Linked DNA regions of Homo sapiens. The protein of the gene in region 2 purifies or fractionates together with the protein of the main gene of each other region. This does not show direct contact. Each region holds a gene or a part of one and is shown on either strand. Other genes may lie near its edges.

The links.
Region 1: the proteins of NTSR1 (region 2) and GPR89A purify together in Homo sapiens (affinity purification with mass spectrometry, with the first as the bait; one large-scale study listed by BioGRID). This does not show direct contact.
Region 3: the proteins of NTSR1 (region 2) and ATP12A purify together in Homo sapiens (affinity purification with mass spectrometry; one large-scale study listed by BioGRID and IntAct). This does not show direct contact.
Region 4: the proteins of NTSR1 (region 2) and SLC30A5 purify together in Homo sapiens (affinity purification with mass spectrometry; one large-scale study listed by BioGRID and IntAct). This does not show direct contact.

What each region holds. Positions count from the first base shown.
Region 1 is NC_000001.11:145,606,401-145,611,585, forward strand, and holds the start of GPR89A (Golgi pH regulator A), read left to right. Parts: upstream 1-1,587; 5' UTR 1,588-1,733; coding exon 1,734-1,775; intron 1,776-2,217; exon of another isoform or gene 2,218-2,275; intron 2,276-5,185. UniProt on the Homo sapiens protein: Voltage-gated channel that enables the transfer of anions such as iodide, chloride, bromide and fluoride which may function in counter-ion conductance and participates in Golgi acidification.
Region 2 is NC_000020.11:62,756,600-62,761,238, reverse strand, and holds part of NTSR1 (neurotensin receptor type 1), read right to left. Parts: intron 2,974-4,639; coding exon 2,883-2,973; intron 1,222-2,882; coding exon 972-1,221; 3' UTR 1-971. UniProt on the Homo sapiens protein: G-protein coupled receptor for the tridecapeptide neurotensin (NTS). Signaling is effected via G proteins that activate a phosphatidylinositol-calcium second messenger system.
Region 3 is NC_000013.11:24,690,067-24,694,705, reverse strand, and holds part of ATP12A (potassium-transporting ATPase alpha chain 2), read right to left. Parts: intron 4,369-4,639; coding exon 4,234-4,368; intron 4,103-4,233; coding exon 3,985-4,102; intron 3,743-3,984; coding exon of another isoform or gene 3,725-3,742; coding exon 3,456-3,724; intron 2,278-3,455; coding exon 2,079-2,277; intron 1,920-2,078; coding exon 1,810-1,919; intron 263-1,809; coding exon 128-262; intron 1-127. UniProt on the Homo sapiens protein: The catalytic subunit of a H(+)/K(+) ATPase and/or Na(+)/K(+) ATPase pump which transports K(+) ions in exchange for Na(+) and/or H(+) ions across the apical membrane of epithelial cells.
Region 4 is NC_000005.10:69,100,173-69,104,811, forward strand, and holds part of SLC30A5 (proton-coupled zinc antiporter SLC30A5), read left to right. Parts: intron 1-634; coding exon 635-757; intron 758-2,889; coding exon 2,890-2,956; intron 2,957-3,789; coding exon of another isoform or gene 3,790-3,873; exon of another isoform or gene 3,874-4,458; coding exon 4,459-4,544; exon of another isoform or gene 4,545-4,568; intron 4,569-4,639. UniProt on the Homo sapiens protein: Together with SLC30A6 forms a functional proton-coupled zinc ion antiporter mediating zinc entry into the lumen of organelles along the secretory pathway.

The sequences.
Region 1 (5,185 bases), on a different chromosome or scaffold from region 2:
CACTCTGCACTCTACACACTCTTGAATGTCAGTTAGGTGCTGTTATGTGGGAATCTACCTGCTTACCTAATAGATATAGCCTGGACACAAAGTTCTCTGGTTTATGACACTCCCATTGTACAGCTGCCTCCATAGCTCCTTGAAATTCTGGATCAGGGATTGGACATCTGACAGGTAGTTTTGACTGCTTGGTATCACAGAGTTCAATCCAACAAAAGGAAGACATGTTCCCTTGTGTATAATGAATCTGCAGATCACTTATTCAAACTATAGTAGTCTGAACTCAGATGCTGGATGTCAGGTCCCCTCAGGATTGTCTTCCTGCGTCTTGACTGCAGCCACTCCTACACAGGGTGATTTCCTGGGCTGGAGCCAGTTTGCAGGACTATGAGACTATATAGACTACAAAGCCTAGCTAGGCCCCAGGTCGGCGGCAGAGTAAGCCCCACAGCAATGCGTTAAGCCTTCATGAAATGAGTGTTGAATGAATGAGGTAGTGATTCAGTGTATATTTGATCCACTGCAATAGGTGGGAAGGGGGCAGAGGCAGCTACTTCCTAAAATAACCCTTCTTCAGACTCTTAAAGAACTGATCCTTGTTTTGAATTAAAATCTATCTTCATTTAACTTCCAGTCCTTTGCCCTACAGATAATTCGTAGCGCCACATCAGTTCTACCCATTCTTTCACATGAAGACAGATGTCATGTTCTGAGTCATCTTTCTTCGCCTCCTTCCAGCAGCCCTTATCTGGTGGCTCACATTTGAGCGAGCTCCAATATGTCTCTGTAGAATCTCTCTCTTCTTTTTTCTTTTCTTTTTTTTTTTTTTTGAGATGGAGTTTCGCTCTTGTTGCCCAGGCTGGAGTGCAATGGCGCGATCTCGGCTCACCGCAACCTCCCCTCCCGGGTTCAAGCGATTCTCCTGCCTCAGCCTCCCTAGTAGTTGGGATTACAGGCATGCACCACCACGCCCGGCTAATTTTGTATTTTTAGTAGAGACAGGGTTTCTCCATGCTTGTCAGGCTGGTTTTGAACTTGCGACCTCAGGTGATCCGCCCGCCTTGGTCTCCCCAGGTGCTGGGATTACAGGCGTGAGCCGGCCCGGCCTGTAAAATCTCTTCAAAGTGTGGTACATGGAGTGCAGTACTCCACCTGTGGCCTGACTGATATGCAGTACAATATTATCACTAAATTGCTACAGACAGTGTGCTTTTCATTGTTGTCACAGAAATGTATTTGGTTAGTTATATTTGTTCATATCTCATCTGACTTTCCAGTCTTCCCTCACTTTGTACAGTCATATTTGCCGAGTCAAGTAAAAGTTATAACATTTAGGACACAATGCCCGACTTACTATAATTACCATTATTATCTTAGGATCATTACAAAACAGAATTACCACTTAGCTCTCAGGCCCTACCTCCTTCAGCCTCAGAAACGTTAACGCTACCTTGCATTGCTGCTTTTAGCACCGCCCCTAATAAGCCCCGCCCCTGGGGCCTCCGCGGCGGGAGCCTAGCGTCCGCCCCACCCACCCCGAGCCCGAGGCGGGGCTGTGGATGTAGACGCTGATTGGCTGACTGGGGCGCAGCTTGATGGCGTCGGGCTGGAGAGCCGCAGTCCCGGCTGCAGCACCTGGGAGAAGGCAGACCGTGTGAGGGGGCCTGTGGCCCCAGCGTGCTGTGGCCTCGGGGAGTGGGAAGTGGAGGCAGGAGCCTTCCTTACACTTCGCCATGAGTTTCCTCATCGACTCCAGCATCATGATTACCTCCCAGGTGAGTCACCGCCTCCCGCCCCGACACCCGTCCGCCTCCCTTTACCGAATCGCCCTCTCCGGTCCTCCGCGGTGCGGGCTGGTCCGGGGTCTCGCTCCTCTCTTACGCGTCCTGCGCTAGTCACTCTGGCACCCAGAGAGGGTGTGCGATTTGCTGCGGCCGGTTCCCTCAGCCCCGGCTGTCAGGAGACTGGCCTGCGGCCGTCCGCGTCCCCACCCGGCATCCATCCCCGGAATTTCGGTCCACTTTTGGAAGCGGTCCGCCGACCTCCAGGCTAAGAGCCGGCGCCGCCAGCTAAGGCGGCGGTTCTAGGAGCTCCTCGAAGCTTCCGGGCTGCGCCAACTGATCCTGGACTGGGGAAGCCTGTGTGGTTCTGGGCGCGCGGTGTGCGACGCGCCAATACTGGATACTGAGGACACGTCAGTGCAGGCTTTGCTGTTAGATGTCAAATCCTGAATCCGGGTGTGGAGAAATTTGCTGCTTCAAAGTATCAGTATAAGGTAATACCTGTGCTTGAAAGTATAAGGTTTCGTTTTTGCACTGACACCTCGTCCTTTATCCTCTGCTTAGTTACCCACCTTTTCCGGATGTTTTTCTGACCCTCATTTCTTCTCCATTGGCCACCTTCATTTGTTTGTACAGTCAACAAACATTTATCGACCATTATATAAAGCTCTGAGCGTAAAAACATGTAAGACACTGTCTCTGCTCAATAGAAGTTTCGTCTAGTTAGCCTCTTGCTTTTACCATGTAATCTATTGTTAATTATTGTTTCTTCCTAGCATTCATCATAGCACTGGCATCATTTATGTCTGTGTTTCTGATTTTGTTTTTTGAGATCCTGCCTTGTTCATAGCTGTATCCCCACTTCCAAGTGCAGGCATTCAATAAATAATTGTTGGCCAATATTTGTGAAGCTCAGACTGCCTGTTGACCTTCTTCCCCCCATCTTTCCAATAAAGATTTTGTGTGTGTGTGGTTGTTTTTACTTGTTCTTTCTCTCAAACGGCAAATAACAGAAGCAGTTACCTTTGGGGGCTTAAAGTGAACTAAATTTGTGTTCTTTGATTCCGTTTTTGTATTGCTTCATCCTAATACTCGTCTCCGTAGAGCGGAGCATTGTCCTTTTCTCTTCAAAAACTTGTTTACAATATTTAAGAAAATAAGAAAGAAGGAAAAGCCATCCATAATCCTACCACTCTAATGCAATAGTTTTTTCATTTTTAAAATTTACCACCTTTTCTATAGTTTTCATAAGTATTGTTTTTATTGGCTGCATAATATTCAAATGTATTAATGTAAAAAAACCTAGACATGTAACTCTTCTGCTTAAAACCTTTCTAAGACTACCCAGTGCCCTTGGTGACAACTCAGGGTTATTTTTAGCCTTAGTACCAATTTAAGAAAAATAACAATATTTAATTAGCTTTTCTTTTCATTTAGAATAAAGATAAGAATGTCAGTAGAAAATTGGCTTTGCATTGCAGCCTCTACGATTTTTAGCATGGATATAATTGATACGTTGAACCGAGGAAGTGGCTTTCTAATTTTGTATGCCTTATAATCATAGACTTTCACTTCACACATGCATCCACATGCAGTAATTAATTGTTAAACCTGGTTTTTACAAATGTGGAAGAAAGACCCAAAGATTCCTTTGCATGGAATGTTCTCTGTTCAGATATTTATGTGGCTACTTTATCATCCTTTCGGTATTAATAAAAATGTCGCTTTAGGAAGGTCTTACCTGACACCCTGCCCACAACCAAAGTAGCTTTCCATTTCGGCTGCCTTCTTCCTCATTTCCATGTTTTATTTTCTTCTTGGCATTTATTACTATGGTTCATTTGTATATTCATGTGTTTGTTATCTGTCCATGAGGTCCAAGATACTGTCTGTCTTGTTCTCTCCTGTATTCACCAGCATCTAGATCAGTTGCGGGCACATAGTAGAGTTGTAGTGAATATTTGTTTAATAAAAAGCACCTCTCTAGAGAGGTGTGGTTACCTTGGAAACACCACCATTGCCCCCTGCGCCCCTCCCTGCTCATTTTTTCTGTTTTGTATTAACTGAAAGGTTTATTTGAAATGAAATCTGAAATCAGAGGTCACGTATTCAATCTTGCTCACCACGGCACAGGATGAAGTTCAAACTCCTTTACATGGCTTTTCAGGTCCCTTATTGATGGGACCCTGGCTCTTCTCTCTTCAGCTGTGGCTCCAATTTATTCTTTAGACTTCCTGAACTTCTTTTAGTTCCCTAACCTGGCGATGCTATGGTGCCTCCAGATTTCCACACAGTGTGTTTTCTCTTTCTGGGCCTTTTCCTCATATCCCTCCCCTTCTTTAAGCCTTCAGATCTCAAGTTGAACATCCAAGAAGCTTCCCCTAGACTGGACTAGATGTCCCTATACCTACTGCCATAGTACCCTTCACCTACTTCCCCTGTAACAACACTACCACATTGTTTGGTAATTACTTGTTTATCTCCTCCATAGATTATAAACTCCTTGAGAGTAGCATTCATGCTCTCATTTGCCATTCTATCCCTTGGACCTGGCACATATTAGGCACTAATAAATATTTGTTAAATGATTAAAAGGGTGAATAAATGATCCAAGAAAGGTGTCTTTTATAGTTAATTCTTTAATAACTGTCCTGCTGATGGCCATCTTTTTTTTTTAACAGTAGCTAATTTTCAACCCAGAAGTCACTTTTTTAAAAGCAACTGTTAACTAACTCATGTTTTGAGCCCTCTATACCGTCATAAGACTTATCAGTTCCAGAGTACACTCTTAAGTCCTAAGGTCAAGACTCTGTACAATTCTGAAAGTATCAAGTCTCATTTTTAATAAGAAGCTATACGCCTTCCATTTTATTTGCAAAGCTATTTGAAATTGCATTTTGCTTCTGCTTTCTTTTTGGATCCTCTATAATCTTGCCAGAATTTGTGTTTACTTGGATGTAAATGAATTCTCCAGCTACTTGTGTGTGTGTGTGTGTGTGTAGTTTAAGTCTTTTTTTTTTTTTCAACTTTTATTTTATTTTAGATTTGGTACTTGTGCCGGGTATATTGTGGGAGCTCAGGTTTGGGGTACAAATGATCCGGTCACCCAGGTACTGAGCATAGTACTCAATAATTAGTTTTTCAACCCTTCCCCCTTCTCCCCTCCCCTGCCCCCAAGTAGTCTCCAGTTTCTGTTTTTGCCATCTTTATGTTGGTGAGTACCCAATATTTAGCTCCCACTTAGAAGTGAGAACATGTGGTATTTGGTTTTCTGTTCTTGCATTAATTTGCTTAGGATGATGGCCTCTAGCTGCATCTATGTTGCTGCAAAGGACATAATTTTGTTCTGAAAGTCTTTTTAAGCTTTTCTTTTTCAATGTGAAAGGAGGCCACAATGAAATATT
Region 2 (4,639 bases):
AAGGCCCCACCCTGAAGCCAGCTCTGGGCCTGGCTCCAGACCTCAGCCTGCACAGCCACAAGCAAAGCACACGGAATGCGCACCCCATCCTGGCCACGGCCACTCGGGCAGGTGCTGGAGACCAGGCCCCTGATCCGGCGTCCCTTCTGCCGAGCCCGAGAGGCCACAGCTGAAGATCTTGAGGCTGAGGCCTGAGCCCCCTCCCATGTGGTGTCCTGGCAGAGCCCCTGGGCCTTGGCCTGGGTGAGGATGGGAGGGAGGAGGGGAGGCTGGGGTCTGGGCCATTCCAGGCCAGCCCATTTTTGTCCTTTTTGGGCTTGTGGTCCCCTCTGGGGGCTGCAGCTGCCTGCGGCGAGGGTGGTGGGAGGGACTCCCCACGGCGATGGGCCCCCAGCTTGCCAGGCCTGAAGGGGCGAGTCAGGGAGCTTTCTTGGAGCTGCCTGGGGGAGGGGGGCATGGGTCTGCATGGCAGGGTCTGCACGTGAGGCCCAAAGCCACGGAGCCTGCGGGACTGGGGCTGGACTCCCCGAGCTAGACAGAGGGGGTGCAGGCCTCAGAGATGTGGACATGGGAACAGCAGCCGGGCCGCCGGAGGCCCGGCCCCACCCAGCACCTTTCATTTCCTTCTCTGGAACCATCCATTAGTCTGAGAACAAAGAAAACTGCCTTTTGCCGCACACTAATTTCTCCTTGTTAGAGGCCCTTTTCCTATCTGGGAGAGGAGCGCTCTCTTGTTCTGGCTTTCAAAGAGGAGATGGGGGAGGGGTGGGGAGGAGTTGGGGACAGGCCCGGGAGACACTAATGAGAAACATGGGTTAGGGGGTGGGAGGGGGGGGTCCCAGGCCTCAGACTCCAGTGCAGGCTGGCCTCTGCCTGACCCCCATCAAGGCTCCCGGGTGGGGGCTGCTCTGTCTGTCGGGGGCAAGGACCCATGGCCAGGCTCCTCCTGGACACGTTCCGGGGCGCACAGCCTAGTACAGCGTCTCGCGGGTGGCATTGCTGGAGAGGGTGTGGTTGCTGGACACGCTGTCGGCCTTCCTCGAGAAGGCTGGCCTCTTCCTCCTGCGCCGCCACACCGGGCAGAGGCAGGCCAGTGTGGCCAGGAAGATGTGGCGGAAGTTGGCAGAGACGAGGTTGTACAGGATGGGGTTGATGGTGGAGCTGACGTAGAAGAGTGCGTTGGTCACCATGTAGAAGTAGTGGTAGAAGTCATAGAGGAACCTGCGGGGAGAGAGAGGCGCTCAGATCCCAGAGAGAACTCTTGAGGGCCCCAAGGCAGGGTGACAGCCGGGGCCACAGCGGCTGAGGGACGTGGTGGCTCAGACGCTAATTAAAACACCCCTTGAGAATGGTTGTTTGGGGACATTTCATAACAAGCTCCAGGGTCTGGCTTCTCCTGAGCAGCTGCAAGTTCTCGTCGTGCTCCCGCCCAGCCTGGGCTGCTGCTGCTTTTTTTTTTTTTTTGAGACGGAGTCTCGCTCTGTCTCCCAGGCTGGAGTACAGTGGCGCGATCTCGGCTCACTGCAAGCTCCACCTCCCGGGTTCACACCATTCTCCTGCCTCAGCCTCCCGAGTAGCTGGGACTACAGGGACCCCCCCACCACGCCCGGCTAATTTTTTGTATTTTTGGTAGAGACGGGGTTTCACCGTGTTAGCCAGGATGGTCTCGATCTCCTGACCTCGTGATCCACCCACCTCAGCCTCCCAAAGTGCTGGGATTACAGGCGTGAGCCACCGTGTCCCACCCAGCCTGGGCTTCTTTAGGTGGAGCGTGGGCTCTGCTTGTCCATCCCTGCCTCTCCTTGCAGCTGCCTGCATTGCCCTTCGCAGCTCTGTGCATCCAAGGGTCCAGGGCTTGGCTGGTCCCGGCCTAACCAAACAGCCAGGGCAGTAACCCCCTCCACACCTCCCCAGCAGCCACACACCTTGCCCTCAGCTTGTTGCCTCCCCCCACAGTGATCTCACTCCCTCACCAGGCAGCTCAATTACTACCAGTCAGCCCTGAGTTTCAGAAGCTTTTGCAGGGGCCACACTCTGTTCCCCGTGCCTTCTCCTCCTCATTGGTCGTAGGTGCGCCCTCCCTGGTGGTTGTCACTGGAAGGAACCTTTTATTCTGGGATCTGGCAGCCCCACTGCACAGAAAAGGGTTCACAAGTGGGCCCCAAGCTGCCATCTCAGGATGGCCAGCTGGCAAGGCTGGCCTCTGGCTGGTGCCTGGGGCCTTGGATTTTGGGAAGGCTCTGCCATTTTTGGGTGAGAAGGGCTCCCTGCCCCTGAACTGTTGGTGCAAACAGTAGGGGTTTTGCCAGGCAGTGGGTGCCCCTGTGATCGGCCCCCATATCGTCCTGTGAGGCTCCTCTGGGAGGGGGCCCTGGAAGCTGCATCTGGTCTTCCGCTGACCCCACTCCATGTGTCTTTTCCCTTTGCTGACTTTGCTGTATAAGCAAAGCTTTGTCAGTATTGGTGCTCTTGCTGCGATAAGTCACAGCCCTGAGTATAACTCCAGGCTGAGCCCTGTGGGTCCAACCTGGGTGGCCTTGGGGCTCTGACAGCTGCCATATGAGGAGGTGACACCCCCACCATGTCCCCAGCAGAGCCAGGGATGTCTCTCTTTCACCTTCGGGAAACTGCCTGGGCCATCTCTCTTAGGACCAACTTTCTTTCTCTGCACCAGTCTGGCCTGAATAGCCCCTGCCTTGAACCTGTCCCTCCATGGCCTTCTCCCGGCCCCAGTCACAGCACAACCCTGCCCAGGGGGTCGCCGGGGGACTCACCACACCCCTGCCCTGAGTGGATCCCCTCAGCAGTGCCTGCCACACCCACCATCTGTTTTGGGAGCACTTACTTGTCCAGCACCCAACTTCCTGGTTCCCGGTACTCACGGAGTCCACTGCTCATCCGAGATGTAGCAGAACATGAGGCGCCGCACGTGGTAGGGCAGCCAGCAGACCACAAAGGCGATGACCACTGCACCTGAGGCACAGAGACGTGGGCTCAGAGACCCACTGCACCTGAGGCACAGAGGCGTGGGCTCAGAGACCCACTGCACCTGAGGCACACAGATGTGGGCTCAGAGACCCACTGCACCTGAGGCACAGAGACGTGGGCTCAGAGACCCACTGCACCTGAGGCACAGAGACATGGGCTCAGAGACCCACTGCACCTGAGGCACAGAGACGTGGGCTCAGAGACAGGACATGGGCTCAGAGACCCACTGCACCTGAGGCACAGAGACGTGGGCTCAGAGACCCACTGCACCTGAGGCACAGAGGCGTGGGCTCAGAGACCCACTGCACCTGAGGCACAGAGGCGTGGGCTCAGTGGGGGAGACATGGGCTCAGAGACCAGACACAAGCTCAGAGAGGGAGAGACGTGGGCTTGGGGAGGGAGCATAAGCTCAGAGACAGGACACAGGCTCAGAGACAGGACACAGGCTCAGAGAGGGAGAGACATGGGCTGAGGGAGGTAGACACTGGCTCAGAGACATGGGCTTAGAGACACAGAGATATGGCCTCAGAGAAGGAGACACGTGGTCTGAGGGAGATGCAGGGAGACATCCCATGTTCATGGATTGGAAGATTTAATATTGTTAAGGTGTCAGTACTACCCAAAGCACTCTACAGATTCAATGCAATCCGTATCAAATTTCAAGAATGCTTTTGGCAGAAATAGAAAAATCTGTGCTAAAATTCATATGAAATCTCAAAGGATCCCGGACAGCCAAAACAATCTTGTAAGAAAATAAAGTTGGAGGTCTTACACTTCTTGATTTCAAAACTTACTACAAAGTTACAGTGTGGTGCTGGCATAAAGATAGACACGTAGACCAAGGGAATAGACTAGAAATCTCAGAAACGAACCCTTACCTTTATGGTCAAGTGATCTTCACCAAGACCATTCAGTGGGGAAAGGACAGTCTATTCAACAAAGGGTGTTAGGAAAACGGGACATCCACTTGTATGAAGGTGGATCCTCCCCTCACACCATATACAAAAATGGACTTGAAGTGGATTAAAGACCTGAACATAAGAACTAAAACCATAAAACTCCTAGGAGAAAACATAATTACTTTACAACATTGATTTTGGCAATGATTTCTTGGGTATGACACCAAAAGCACAGGCCACAAAAGAAAAAAGTAGATAAATTGAACAACATAAACACTGAATTTCTGTGTATCAAAGGATGCCATCAGGAGAGTGGAAGTCAGCTCACAAAAAAGGAGAAAATATTTGCAAATCACATCTGATAATGAGTTAACCTTGAGAGTATAACTCCTAAAACTCAACATGAAAACAAACAATCCAATTCACAAATGGGCAAAGGACTCAGACATTTCTCCAAAGAAGATACAAATGGTCAACAAGCACATGAAAGATGTTATTAATCATTAATCTTAAATCACTGGAGAAATGCAAATCAAAACCACAACGAGATGCCACCTCAAATCTATTAGGATGGCTACTATTAAAACAACAGGCACACACTGGGACCAGGACACACCTTGGATGTTGGCAAGCCAGCCGTCCTGAGCTGGGGCTGGTCCTCAGGGTTCCGATAGGATGGGCGTTGCCCTGCTGTGGGCTTCGCCAGCCCTGAGAGCTCCGTGTCCAAAGCCCTGGCTGGTTCCCATGAGCAG
Region 3 (4,639 bases), on a different chromosome or scaffold from region 2:
GCTGTATCCCTGACGACTGTCTTTGAAGCCAGGTATCCTTCAAAATATGAGGTAAGCAAAGGATGCATGCAAGTAGAAAGGTCATGCTGCCGATGACAGAGATTACCGGTTGTGAGGAAAAACTCACCTGAAATTTATTAGTAGAGTTAAAAGGGATTTCAGCTACTTTGCGGTTTCTTTTTCTAATTTCCATCACATCACCCAAAATGACCTCTGAGAATTTTAAAAGAGCAGTTTCTGAGGCATCTCCAATCACAGCTTTCTGGGAATCAAAGAAGAAAAATATTTGCAGCACATATTTAATGAACCAACATGCCCTCAGCATAGGACCCAAAACACACCCTCCTGATCCCATTACCACCTAGCTGGAGAGACATTATCACGTGATCAGGGAGGGCCGCAAGACCGTGGTAAGCGTGTAAACAACAGTGCCACCTACTGGCATTAGGGATGTTTGGAGAAGCTGGACCTCTGCGAGGACTGAAGATTTCGTGGAAAAAAGCAGCTACGAACTAGATCTTGATAGATAGGTGGGTTACCGATACACAGAGAAGAAAGCCTTCCAGAAACCAGGATGCGGGTGCAGGGGCATGAGGGGCAGGCTCGTCCGTGAGTGTTCAAGGTACAAGCGGATGTGGAGGGTGTGGCAAGACCTGGAGGGCCCTGAAAGGTAGCCTGAGGTCTAGACTTGAGAAGCAGAAAACAGGGAAGTACGGAGAGATTTTGAGCAAAGTTAAGTGACTATAAAAGCACCATTAAGGGAAATTAGTGGCATTCGAGAAAGACCCCAGGAGGGATAAACCGGAATCAAAGAGGTTTAATTCCAATCAGCCGGTAATCGGCTATTTAGATGCAAGGTACTGCTGACAAATACTAAAGTTATGTATATTTTGAAGCAAGAATGATAGAACTTGGTGGCTTACTGGATATAAGGAAAGGATAAAGTCAAAGATGACTTCCAAATATTCTGTTCCAATGACAAATAGAATGGTTATATCATAGACAATTAGAAAATTGCGGCAAGGCACTGATGTGCAGCCAGGCTGGGTACGGGTGGAAGTTAACAAGCATGATTTGTGCAACTTCCTAGCGGAAGCACACAGCCAGCCAGAGATTCGGGTTGGAGTTGAGGTAAGAAATTAGAGCTGGACATAAAGATTTGGAAGATATCGACAAAGAAGCAATTGGCCAAAAAGAGCATTCATGAGCTGTCTGACGGAGAGAAAAGCAAACAAACAAACAAAAAAATAAGAAAGAAAAAGAGTCAGGGAAGGAAACAGATGGCAAATAGAAAAGCCAGGAGAACAGGGATTCAGTGACTCATTGAGATGGAGAGGAAAAGGGAGGAAGGGAAGGAGGAGAGGGAGGGAGGGGGAGAGTTTATTGTATGTTCCGATATTCCAGGACCCCTTAGAGCTTTGTCTGCAGCCATATTCTAGTTAACAGGAGTCCTTTTATTTTTATTCAATCACACTTTAAATTTCCATGAATGGTGTGTATATTAAAAGGAACTTTGATTATATCCACTTAGCTGGCAGAAAAGTCAGGAAAGTAACTTAGAAGTGCATTCATTTCCAGAATTTTCTGAAGACGCTAAAGCAATATTCTGAAACCTTTTAAGCATCTTTGTATTCTCAAAGCTAGTGTGCATAAAGAAAAATTTCTGGATGTCTTGTGAGTCTGACTTGCTCTTGCAAGCACTGAACAAACTTTAAGCAACTGGAGAGATGAAATCAAGCACCCAATCAGACCTCAGCAAGTGACTACAAACTGGCTGTGATTTAAGACCAAGTGCTGCAGAAGCATTACCTTCATGATGGGGACATTTTCCTGTCCTGGCTTGAACTCTGCTCGGTTACACAATGTTATTATCTTGGATAAGGAGGCCCAAGTCCTAGAGCTTTGGTCAAAGACTTGGTCTGGAAGACAGAGAAAGAACAGTGGCTGCTGTGGGTTGGGCTGGCCGTCCATGAGTCACTGTCCAGCAATCCTCTGGCTGCAGACCCTGCTGTGTGCTCAGCTCAGCCCCAGGATGGAGTCCACAGCTTTGGCCAGACCGAGCTCTCCATAAGACTTACTTGAATGGTCCTCACTGGTGTCAGCCACAAAGATCTGATTGTCGAACCACAGATGGGCCACTGTCATCCTGTTCTGGGTCAGTGTCCCAGTCTTGTCCGAGCAGATGATGGAGGTGGAGCCGAGGGTCTCCACAGCCTCCAGGTTCTTCACCAGGCAGTTCTTCTTGGCCATCCGTTTTGCTGTCAGCGACAGGGTCACCTAGCAGGAGAGGGAAGGACGCTTTGGGAAAAATCCTCATTTGAACTCAGGTCCAATAATACAGAAATAGCCAATGTGAGCTGTGATTGAATTTTAGGAGAGAGCTGGACTAGTTTTAGGGGAGAGGTGTGGTTGTCAGCGCAGCTAAGCTGACCTGGTGGCTTATACGCCGCCAAGAGCCCTCTATGCCACAATCCTTTTTTAAAGATTAAATATGAGATGCTTTTCTTGTTCCTTCATGACTTGAAGAAAACAAGGGACCCACGGGCAGCAAACACGGACACGCTGCTGTGGCTCGTGTTCACGTACAATCACGACGCCTCCTGTGATCCCTAAGCAGGAGTGTGTAAGAGAGACTGACCAGTGCATGCCAAAGAGTTGTCCCAAAGGACACACTTGTTGCTTTGGGGAATTCAGCAGCCTTTATGTTGTTTCATTTTAAAAGCTCCATATTTTAAAGATTCTTTTAAACCCCTAGATCTCAAAGGGTTCTTTTGGCTCCAATTTCCCCAAATTACTATCTCCTGGAGTCAGAGGAGACCTGGACTTCAAAAACTTCTTCTCTTTTCTTTGGTCAGGACAATAGCAGGCCAATGATCATGTAGTCACAAAACTGGAAACATAAACCCCCTCCTCTCCTACCCCTTGAGACCCCCACAGGAGAGACTGAGGAGGAGGGGGCTCTTCTCTAGGGACTGAATGACATGGGCCCATACAAACAGCTGGGTCTGGGGTTGGCCAGGAAAGGGCTGGAGTCCTCGGCAGGAAAAATGGGAGGAATTTTTTTTTTTCGTAAGAGAGGTAAGTGGAGTGTGGCAATGTGCCTAAATGCCTAAGTTGTAGAAACTGCCAAAGAAATGTGCGGAAGGCATCAAGCTTCTAGAAAACCTGTGAATGGTGGAGTCTGTCTTATCTAGATCTTATGGGGCAGAGTAAGCTGTGTGAATTGCAGATTGAAAGCATAACGTTTTCAAGGAAAACGCAGTCAAATATTGAAAATATGACAAATTTTTTGTCTCTGTAAGGAACAGTCTATGCAGAATGTTCCAGGGTTGTCGCTGGCGGGGAGGGCGTGGTGCTCTGGACTTGGGGGAGATTGCAGTTTGTGTGGGCGCCTCCCCAGCACCAGTGCTGTGTCCACAGGGCCAGGTGCAGGCTGTCTAACAGCATGGACTCACAGTGACAGTGGCCAGGAGGCCCTCGGGCACATTGGCCACAATGATGCCAATGAGGAAGATGATGGAGTCCAGGACTTGATACTTCAGGGACACAGCGATGATGAAGAAAAGGATGCCGATGGAGACAGCCACTCCTGCCACAATGTGAACAAAGTGCTCGATCTCAATGGCAATGGGCGTCTTCTCATTTCCAACTCCTGAGGCCAATGAGGCAATATGGCCAATGATGGTGCGGTCACCCGTGTTGATAACCATGCCGGTGACAGTGCCTACAGGGGAAGTAGATGCTTTATTCCAGGGGTCCTCAGCCAGGAGGGGTGTGCAGCCAGCTTGCAGCCCTCTCTGGGGGCTGGCACAATCGATAGGCACACCACATTCCCAAGGCCAAGCATCGTCCTCTAGGCCCTTCAGTTCCATGCTTCCTCTGGGATGAGCTTTGTAACGGGGTGTGGCAAAGGACAGACCTGAGAGCCCAGGAGGGAGAAAGGACACAGGTGGACATGTGGGCTGAGAGCCAGAGGCCTTTTACCTTCCAGACACGTTGTGGAATAGAAGCAGATGTTCTTTGTTTCCAGGGGGTTTTCATGGGTAAACTCAGAGGAGCGGGGCTGGGGCTCAGACTCCCCCGTGAGAGATGAGTTATCCACCTAGAAGAAATGTTGAAGGTGGTTCACAGCTGGGTACCTCATTCCCTGCCTCTTATACTGATGCTGGGAAAGACCCCAGAGCCAGCAGGTTTGGAACATGGTCCTTGGGGTGGATACCCCTTGCCGCTTACCCGACACCCCTGAGAAGACAGCACCCTGATGTCTGCAGGGATCTGGTCTCCTCCTTTGACCTCCACAATGTCCCCCACCACCAGCTGCTCTGAAGGGATGGTCTTCTTCTCGGAATCTCGGATGACGAGAGCTTGCTGCAGAAAAAAACCATGACAGATGCCTCAGACCCTGGAAGGACACCGGCCCTCCCCCAAGTCTGTGCCGCACCGAACCCCAGGACAGAGGCCTTGGAACTTCCTGATCACTCTCACTGTTGAGTCCATGCTGTTATGCAGCCTGCACCTGGCCCTGTGGACACAGCATTGCTGCTGGAGCATGAGGCTGTCAGAACAGCAAGAATGAAACAGAAGACTGCTTCACCCGAGGCCTGAAGACTCTAAGAACTACTTTTTCTTGAGCTTATGG
Region 4 (4,639 bases), on a different chromosome or scaffold from region 2:
GGCCAGGCTGGTCTTGAGTTCCAGACTTCAGGTGATCCACCCACTTCAGCCTCCCAAAGTGCTGGGATTACAGGCATGAGCGCCCAGCCTGTTTGTATTTTGAGACAGGGTCTCACTCTGTCGCCCAGGCTGGAGTGCAGTGACACGAACACAGCTCACTGCAACCTCAACCTCCCACCTTAGCCTCCCGAGTGGCTGAGACTGCTACCACGCACCATAATGCCTGGCTAATTCTTTGTATTTTTTGTAGAGATAGGCTTTTGCCACGTTGCGGAGGCTGGTCTCAAGCTACTGCACCTGGCCTCAAAATGTTAACAGTAGGGCGCGGTGGCTCACACCTGTAATCCTAGCACTTTGGGAGACCAAGGCTGGAGGATCGCTTGACCAAAGGAGTTCGAGACCAGCCTGGGCAACACATTGAGACCCCGTCTCTATGAGTTAAAAAAAAAAAAAAAAAAAAGTCAACAGTAGTTATCACGTGGATGGTGAGTTGTTTGGGGACTCTGTTTTGTTTCATTTTGTGTTTATGTATATTTCTGTGGTTTCTGTAATGACCTCTTGTTTAAAAAACCAGATTGATGAGCTGCTTGTAATTTCAGTGATACTAAAAATTGTTTCTGCTTTTATTTTTCAGATTAACAAAATATATTGTGTTACTATGTTTCACTAAATTTTTGAAGGCTGTGGGACTTTTCGAATCATATGATCTCCTAAAAGCTGTTCACATTGTTCAGTTCATTTTTATATTAAAACTTGGGTGAGTGTGGGGGGGGGTTTTTTCTTGATATTTTTTATTTCTTTGAAAATCCTGTTTTAACAGAGTATCTTTAAGAAACTTTACATACAATATTTTGTTTGTTCCTCCTGACAAGTATTTGATAAACTTTTTTAACTGGGAGTATACTTAAGATTAGAGGTACAAAGAGACTGAAAAGAAAACGGATTGTTGTGCTCTAATCACTTGCCTAAACACAAACTTTGATGAGATTTTTGCAAATTTAGTTTTTGGGCTATTTATTATTATTATTATTCACTGCATAATCCTTTCTTAGTACAGAGTCCTCATGTAGTGTGAACATTAATTTATTCTACTTATACGAAATGCTTTTTTTTTTTCTTTTTTGAGACACAGTCTCACTCTGTCACCAGGCTGGAGTGCAGTGGCGTGATCTTGGCTCACTGCAAGATCACTGCCTCCTATGTTCAAGCGATTCTCCTGCCTCAGCCTCCCGAGTAGCTGGGACTACAGGCGCTCACCACCATGCCCAGCTAATTTTTGTATTTTTAATAGAGACAGGGTTTCACCATGTTGGCCAGGATGGTCTCAATCTCTTGACCTTGTGATCTGCCCGCCTCAGCCTCCCAAAGTGCTGGGATTACAGGCATGAGCCACCACGCCTGGCCTACATATAAGAAATTCTAAATAAAGATTTCTTGGACCTTGAGATTGATAGTGACCACCCTCTGTGTTAATAAAAACCTGTTAAAGACTCTTGGGAGTCAGCTGGGCACGGTGGCTCATGCCTGTAATCCCAGCACTTTGGGAGGCGGAGGCAGGTGGATCGCCTGAGGTCAGGAGTTGGAGACCAGCCTGGCCAACATGTCGAAAGCCTGTCTCTACTAAAGATACAAAAATTAGCCAAGCGTGGTGGCATGTGCCTGTAATCCCAGCTACAAGGGGTGCTGAGGCAGGAGGATTGCTTGAACCTGGGAGGCAGCGGTTGCAGTGAGCTGAGATCATGCCACTGCACTCCAGCCTGGGCAACAGAGCGAGACTCCATTTAAAAAAAAAAACAAAAACAACACTCTTCGAAGTATAATTTTGGTAAGTTGGGAAAGAGATTATTGACTAGGAAATATTAAGCACCAGTGACGTGCTTTTTTTTTTTTTTTTTTTTTTTGAGACAGTCTGGCTAGGTTGCGCAGGCTGGAGTGCAGTGGCTCAATCTCAACTCACTGCAGCCTCTGCCTCCAGGGTTCAAGCAATTCTGTCTCAGCCTCCTGAGTAGCTAGGATTACAGGTGTGTCCCACCATGGCCAGCTAATTTTTGTATTTTTTTTAGTAGACACGGGGTTTTGCCATGTTGGCCAGGCTGGTCTCCAACTCCTGACCTCAGGTGATCCGCCCACCTCGGCCACCCAAAGTGCTGGGATTACAAGCTTGAGCCACTGTGCCTGGCCAAGTTGTGTGCATTTTTATATAACTATTTTGGCAATGTGAAAGGTAGGGATATATAATTAGTAATTTCTTCATTTTCATTATACTATTTCAAGATTTATTACTGAATTTTAGAGAAAATAGGAATTCTCTTCTTTGATATTTTAAGATATAAAAAAAATTGTGACTCCTTTATTTTTGTGGCTTGTTAGCTGGTTCTGAAGACAGTTAGAAAATAAGAGTTCTCGGCCAGGTGTGATAGCTCATGCCTGTTTTCCCAGCAGTTTGGGAGGCCGAGGCAGGCGGATCACCTGAAGTCAGGAGTTCGAGACCAGCCTGGCCAACGTGTTGAAACACCATCTCTACTAAAAATACGAAAAATTGGCTGGGCGTGGTGGCGCACACCTGTAATCCCTGCTACTCAGGAGGCTGAGGCAGGAGAATTGCTTGAACCCGGGAGGCAGAGGTTGCAGTGAGCCAAGATCGTGCCACTGCACTCCAGCCTGGTGACAGAGCAAGACTCCATCTCAAAAAAAAAAAAAAAAAAGTTATCAAAATATTGCAATAGGAGTTTTACTAAAATAAGTATAATTAATTCTCCAGTATGATTTATTCAGAGGATAACACTTCAAGTTCTGGCATATTTGTTTAAAATAAGTGTCTTTACTTAAAACTGTATCTTGTGTTTAATATGGATTAATATTAATATATTAATGTTTCAATATTTACAGGACTGCATTTTTTATGGTTTTGTTTCAAAAGCCATTTTCTTCTGGGAAAACTATTACCAAACACCAGGTAAGATTTTTGCAGAATCTTTTATTCCTAGCAGCTTCTCGTTTAGTGGGCCAGGAGGCAATGCTTATTTTTTATAATGGGTACTTAATGAATGATTTAAGTATGCCACAGAACAATTTTAGAGTTAACTTGCTCTTGTCTTTTCAGAATGGAGACTTTAAATCATAAAGTACTAAGATCATGGAATGTTTTTAAAAAAAACAAGAGGGTAAAAAAAATTATAAAGCATTCATGTAATTGTTTTCTTCAGTACACACTTCTTATTCTGAAAGATTTACAAATTGGACATGAAAGCATGCCCAAGAGCCTAGTACAAATGTCACTGGAAAGCTGACAAAGCATAGGGGTTAAGAGTGTGATTTCTGGAGTCAGACAAAGTCATGTTCTGTCTGTCCTCCTTACTGACCCTTACTTTGGGCAAGTTACTTGATTTCTCTCTACCTTAATTTGCTCACTGTAAAATGGAGATAACAGTAACTTCCTAACAGAACTGTGAGGAAAAATGAATTAATACTTATGAAGTTCTTAGAATGATGCCTCATCATCATTGTGACAATGTGACACCCTCATGATCATTGTCACTGTTCTCTTTAGGCAGCTGTGATTCAAACTAGAAATGTCCTACATTTTGCATAATCATCTCACATCGTCACTTCTTTGGGCAGCAGTTATACCATAGTACATGTTTGCTTTATGCCATGACTTACAAACCTGCGTCATAATTTTTTTATTAGAAAGACGAATTTAAGTACTTCTGTTTCAGAGACCAAGAACATTTTTTAAAATATGATTAATAGTCTAAACCCCATTTTAACTTTTTTCTCTCCTTTCAGATAATTGGATCACTAAAAATTCCTGGTAGAAAAGAATTTAAAGACAAAAAGTTAAATGATCCTAGGAAACTAGTGGGAAACTGAGAAATCATAAAATTGTACTCTGAAGAAAAAGATTTCAAAATCTACCAGCAGACAAGAATATAGATAATGGAAAACAGAATACTGTCCTTTTTTTTTTTCTTTCTTTTTTTGAGAAAGAGTCTTGCTCCATCGCCCAGGCTGCAGTGCAGTGACACGATCTTGTCTCACTGCAACCTCTGCCTCCCGGGTTCAAGCGATTCTCCTGCCTCAGCCTCCTGAGTAGCTGGAATTACAGGCACCCACCACCACACCCAGCTCATTTTTGTATTTTTAGTAGAGACGGGGCTTCATTCACCACATTGGCCAGCCTGGTCTTGAACTCCTGACCTCAGGTGATCTGCCTGCCTCGGCCTCACAAAGTGCTAGGATTACAGGCATGAGCCACAGCACCCGGCCCAGAATAAGAATACTGTCTTGGAAATCTAGACTTAGTCAAGGGATCTTATGTTTTCTATTTACAAAATATGTAATGATTTCACCTTTAAAATATTTGTTATTATTATCTTTCTGTATTTTATTTAAAATTTGGATATATAGCAAAATATATGTGACTGAAATTTTTAATTTTTTTGTTTCCATTTATAGTGGATCAAAATATTTAAACATGCAGTTGCTGGGTGTATTATTTCACTCTTGTGGTTTTTTGGCCTCACTCTTTGTGGACCACTAAGGTAAATAAAAATGCATATTTTGAATGTGTGTTTGTATTTCTTCATTTTGAATATTATTTTTGTTCCACTGTGTTTTACGTCAAATATTTATCTGT